2 separate regions of the Homo sapiens genome follow, and region 1 is linked to region 2. The links come from fine-mapping of genetic effects on gene expression. A gene starts in region 2. The other region holds a variant in brackets. All regions are shown on one strand. Distances are between the middles of the regions.

Evidence for each region. PIP is the estimated chance that this variant, and not a neighbour inherited with it, causes the effect.
Region 1: its variant is fine-mapped to the expression of SUSD1 in whole blood (INTERVAL, PIP 0.95).

Annotation. Positions count from the first base shown.
Region 1 is chr9:112,033,968-112,036,875 of GRCh38, reverse strand. All of the region lies in intron 1 of LINC02977 (long intergenic non-protein coding RNA 2977), which reads left to right. Among named protein-coding and RNA genes, the nearest start is that of LINC02977, 5.0 kb to the left of the region's middle. RefSeq lists enhancers at 881-980, 2,551-2,640. The variant C/T (reference allele first, on the strand shown) is at 1,119.
Region 2 is chr9:112,174,142-112,177,049 of GRCh38, reverse strand. SUSD1 (sushi domain containing 1) reads left to right here and starts at 1,753. Exons shown (of 17, transcript NM_022486.5): 1 at 1,753-1,917. The coding sequence starts at 1,815. RefSeq lists a silencer at 1,635-2,294.

The DNA of each region.
Region 1 (2,908 bases), 140 kb after region 2:
AAAATCGTTGCTAAATGGTTGGCTAGTTGTCCTATTAATAGTCATTGAGACCAGGAGCGGTGGTTCACCCCTGTAATCCCAGCACTGTGGGAGGCTGAGGTGGGAGGATCACTTGAGGTCAGGAGTTCGAGACTAGCCTGGGCAACATGGCGACACACAATCTTTACAAAAAATAAGAATTAACAGAGGCCAGGCTCAGTGGCTCACGCCTGTAACCTTTGGGAGGCCAAGGTGGGTGGATCACTTGAGGCCATGTGTTCAAGACCAGCCTGGCCAACATGGTGAAACCCTGTCTTTACTAAAAATACAAAAATTAGCCAGGCGTGGTGGTGTGCACATGTAGTCCTAGCTACTTGGGAGGCTGAAGTGGGAGGACCCCTTGAACAGGGGAGGTTGAGGCTGCAGTGAGCCATGGTCATGCCCTGTACTCCAGCTGGGTGACAGAGCAAGACCCTGTTTCCAAAAAAAAAAAAAAAAATTCATTGACTGTTTTTTTCTGTTAGTGATTTGAAATCATATACTGAATCATATGCTGAAGTCTATTTCTGAACTTCTTCTTTTGTTCTACTGATCTATTTCTGTGCCAATACCACCTACTGTAACTTTAAAATAGGTTTTTGTTTATACCAAGTAAGAATAAGTTACCATTATTTTTCCATTAATTTTTTTTTTTTTTTTTGAGACAAGGTCTCACTCTGTCACTCTGTTGCCCAGGCTGGAGTGCAGTGGCATGATCTCAGCTCACTGTAACCTCTGCCTCCCTGCTTCAAGCTATTCTCCCACCTCATCCTCCCGAGTAACTGGGACTACAGATGCGTGCCACCACACCTGACTAATCTTTATATTTTTAGTAGAGAGGGGGGTTTCACCGTGTTGGCCAGGCTAGTCTCGAGCTCGTGACCTCACGTGATCCTCCCGTCTCCGCCTCCCAAAGTGCTGGAATTACTGGCATGAGCCACCGAGGCTGGCCTGAGTATTCTAGTTTATAACTTACAAGGTCATTCATATGTATATGTTGTTGTGCTTGTCTAGCTATTTTATATTTTGTTATTCTGAACTCTTGGCCTCTATCTCAGCTCCAGCCCCTGAAAGTGCAGGAGTGCTTTTGCTCTGCCAGT[C/T]GGCCTTTTTTGGGAAATCATATCAAGATGGCTTTTCCAGCACAATTACTTCCTAGAGTGTCTGCTTGATGCATGGAAACTCATAGATTTTTGGCATGCCAAACAGAGGGTTTTCCTGCCGTCACTGCTGGCTCCAGCCACAGACTTCAGTTTTCTTACCTGTTAGAGCCTTTGTCCTCTGACTGGTGGAAATGGAGCTTGCTTCTTTTTGTTTTGCCTGCCACTAGTCTGGCAGCCTCCACCTCTTGACCCTTGGGTTTCTTATCCTTGGAATCAGATACGAGGCCCTGTGTCTTCTGTTGCTGTAGAGGACACAAGTCATATTCTCTGAGTGGAGATCTCTCTGAAGCTCCTCTTTCCAGGCTTGTACTGAGGGACCTCTGGACCCTCTACCACGTGGTGTCAAAGCTGCCAAGAGCTGTCATATGCTGGGTCTGTAAATTGACTTTCTCACCTCTGACCAGATGCATTCACTTGAGCGGCACAGAGATTTGGGGGAGTGAAAGGGCACTGTTTCTTTGGGTCCGTGGGCTTGTGTCCCATCCCCTAGCCTTGGGGTTAGCAGGATTCAGAATTTATGAGTGTGGTCTGCAAAAGTCTACCTCTACCAGATGGGGGAGAACCTAGTGTGTGGACCTGAAGGGTTAGCTCTGTGCTTTAGTCCCTGGGAGTGGCCATCTTGAGTCTTGGTGGGCTTGGCAAGTAAGGAGACATTGACCAGATTCAAAGCTTCCAGAGGTGGTGAGAACTCCAGGGCCGAGTAATGGAGAGTACAAAGGTCCTTCTTGGCCCCCATGACCCTTCCAAGCCAAGAACTTGGCAGTAGCTGTGAGAAGCAGAGATAGGGAGAGGAGGTGAGGGGCACCTATAGCTCTTAGCCATGAGTTATGACTCCCTCCATCCAAGGGAGACCCAAGGACATGAAAGGGGACTCAGTTCCAAGGATCAGAGGGAACTTGGGTTGTTTTGGGATAATGACTGTGGCTTGGGATGTCACGGAGATGAACACCAGAATTGGTGTGCAACAGATGAGCTCCAGTACCCCTGATAGTTTGCATGGGTTTTGCTCTGCTGATGATGGTCAGGGACAGCAGTGAGGCCCTCTACAATGCCGCCTTCTGCCTAAACACAGGCAGTGCCCACAAAAGGGGAGCTGTCATTATGGAGCCTAGGAATGGATAGTCAGAGAGCAGCGGCTGGGCAGTGCAACTCCTGCATTGGACAAGGTCCTGGCTAGAGAATGTCAATGTCCACACTGCATGTAGCCCTATCGAGGAGATGATGTAGGGGGCTGTCAGCCTTGGAGACTCTAGCCTAAGTACCCCACCACCACTCTGGCTGGCTTCCAAGGGCACAAATCAGCTTTCTGAATCTGACTTGGCTTCCTGTGATCTGCATTCATGAACATTCTTACTAGAGTTCTCATGGAAAATGAATACACAACTATTTGGTCTGAATGTGTCTGAGTTTGGTGTCTCCAAAACAATTCTCTGGATTAGATGGAGAATGAAGAAACTTCACAAAGGCAAAAGGACAGGTCCCCATCTCGACCCCCAGAGACCACTTCTCAGAGTCTCTATCTGTTCGTCTCTGGTGTTAGCCACGTTCCTTTACTTTCCCTCATTTCTGTGGCCACTCCTGTGGCTTCCTCTCTTTCAACCTGCAGGCTGCTGCTGCCCTGCCTCAGACCCTTGTAGGCTTCTGTAGAGATGCTACTCAGATGGGGGTGGAGCTAGATGCAGAGCTGAAACCCACCTAGGAGATCTAGCTTGGAGAGCTTGTGAATCTTA
Region 2 (2,908 bases):
GCTTTTTCTTTGTTTGTTTTTGTTTGTTTGTTTTTTTAAGAGAGGGGGTCTCACTGTATTGCCCACATGGGCCTTGAATTCCTGGACTCAAGCAATTCTCCTGCCCTTCAGCCTCTTTAGTAGCTGGGACTACAGGCATGCCACACTTCACCCAGCTTGAAGTTGATTTTTAACTACTTGTTAAGACTCCACAACTTTAGCCCTTATATGGGTGTGTTTGAAAGTGGTGAGATTTACGGCAGGCTCATGGCAGAGAGTAAACAAGTGAGGATATGGGGTGAAGTAGTGGGGTGCCTGCTCTCGGCTGCGCTCCCACAGACATCACAAGCTCAAAGCCTTCAAACCGGATCTTATTTATTTCCTTCTCCCCGACTAGTCATAAAACCTAGTGGATTCCACTCTTACACACTGCCCTCTTCACACTCATTTGTCAATGCCCAGCTGCAGGACACATCTATCTCTATCTCTATCTGTCTGTCTGTCTGTCTGTCTGTCTATCTATCTATCTATCTATCTATCTATCTATCTATCTATCTATCTATCTATCTGTCTATGGAGTCTCACTCTGTCGCCCAGTCCGGAGTGCAGTGGTGCGAGCTCGGCTCACTTCAACCTCCGCCTCCTGGGTTCAAGCAATTCTCTCGCCTCAGCTTTCCGAGTAGCTGGGATTACAGGTGCCTGCCACCGTGCCCACCTAATTTTTTTTTTTTCAGTAGAGACGGGGTTTCACCAAGTTGGCCAGGCTGGTATCGAGCTCCTGACCTCAAGTGATCCACCCGCCTCGACCTCCCAAAGTGTTGGGATTACAGGCGTGAGCCACCGCACCGGGCCAGGACATGTCTTCTATTGCCTGATTCCTGCAGCAACTCCGGGCTGGACTCTTTGCCTTCCACATCCCAACCCAACCCCAATCCCAATTCCACAGAACAGACAGAGATGTGTCAGTGATGAAGTCATTCACTGCTTGAAACTGTGACAGCTTCCCGGCGACCTCCATCACTTGGGTTAGGAGGGCTAACTTCCCTCTGCAGCTCAACGCCCCTCTCCAACCCTCTGCTCTCACTCTAGGTCCCCATTCCCCATTTCTACAACAAACTCCCGCTTAGATTCCTCCCCAACGTCCTTCTCATCCTTGGGTCTTGGTTTACTCCTTCCCTTGGGATGAGTACGGCTGTGATGGAGGTAGGGGCTGGCATCAGCGCGTCCCAAGCCGGGTGTCCTCAGAGCAGCGGGGACTGATGCCAGCCCCTCCCTCCATCACAGCCCTACTCTCTCTCACTCCCGGTGACCAGGTGTCACCTGGTCAAGTGTGTCGCCCCTGGGTGGCCTGGGTCTGCGTCTTCCGACCTCTCATCTGGGCCTTGCGCTGTGGTCACCTCATCCAGCTCCCTTTCACGTCCTGGAAGATTTCCGCCCCTTGCTCCCCTCACCCCTCTCCCCGGGGGTGCCTCCCTGAGCCCTCGAGTGGCTTGAATCCTCCGCAACATTTCCTCCCCAGCACTCTCCGGGGCTCTGCGTCCAGCTGTGTCATTATCCGATGAGTGTCTGTCCCCCTTTGCGAATGTGAGCGGCGAGAGGGCAGCAAGTGCGGAGCCAGAGACGGACGCGGAACGGGCGTGTCCTAAGCCCAGGCCCCGACAAGAGGAAGGACCCGCGCTCTGCGGCCTCCCGGGGACCCCGCAGCGCCCCCCGCTTCCCTCGGCGGCGCCGGAAGCCGCCGGCTGGTCCCCTCCCCGCGGCGCCTGTAGCCTTATCTCTGCACCCTGAGGGCCCCGGGAGGAGGCGCGGGCGCGCCGGGAGGGACCGGCGGCGGCATGGGCCGGGGGCCCTGGGATGCGGGCCCGTCTCGCCGCCTGCTGCCGCTGTTGCTGCTGCTCGGCCTGGCCCGCGGCGCCGCGGGAGCGCCGGGCCCCGACGGTGAGTGCGGGCTGGGACGGGCACGGGCGGCCGGCGGGGCCCCCGGCTGGGCCTCGAGGACTCTGGGCGCACGGACGCTTCCCCGCCCCTGGGCCGGGCCGGCGCGGTGCCGAGGCGTGGGGCGCAGGTGGGGCCCGCGCCGGCCGTTGGAGATCGGCAAGGAGGAGCTCAGAGAAGCGGGGGGCTCCCCGCCGGGCTTCCCTGCCCCCGCCCGACCCCGCGACGCCGGGGGACGCCGGTTTTAAGGCGGCCTGGCCGGGCCCCCAGGGACCTCCACTGCCCAGGAGGCGGGGTGGGGGCTGGGCGCGAGCGCGGACCCGGGCAGGGCGGCGCCCGGGGAAGGGCGGGGAGGCCAGGGCGTTCTGCGGCGCTGTCACGCTTCCGGCTCTGCGGTGGCTTTTGCATGACACATTTTTGACCCGAAGCAATTTTCTTACCACTTTTAATTTTTTCACGTTGTTAGAGAGCCGGATGCTAAATATGGTGAGAAAGACGCGTAAGGAAGAGTACAGGAGTGAAGCCATTAATTCACTCATTCATTCAACAGATGGCCCTTGAACAGCTTCCCTGTGCGCGATGAGGGCGGGCAGTGCGGGCCCTCGTGGAGCTCATTGTCTGGAGGATTTAGACCAGCAAATGTTCTATTTCCAAGCAATCGAGGGAGTTGTTTTTCCTCCTCTGCAAAATGCAGTGTTGAGCTGAGTAGGAATTACACAGAGGATTCAGACACGCAGGGGAGGTGACATTCATCCACATAACTGTAATACAAGGCAGAATGGCATGGGTGCCATGAGAAGGTGTGGGTGGTGAGGGCAGGGAAAGGGGAATCGGTGGTGACCCTTGAGCTGGGCCATCAATGATTGGTCATATTTGGATATGGGAAAATGTGAAAAAGGTATCCCAGCTCATAGCAGAAGGCACTGTCACCTCTCCACAAATGAGTGTAGAATGAATGAATTCCTTCAGAATTCAGGCCCGGGGGAGAAGGGAA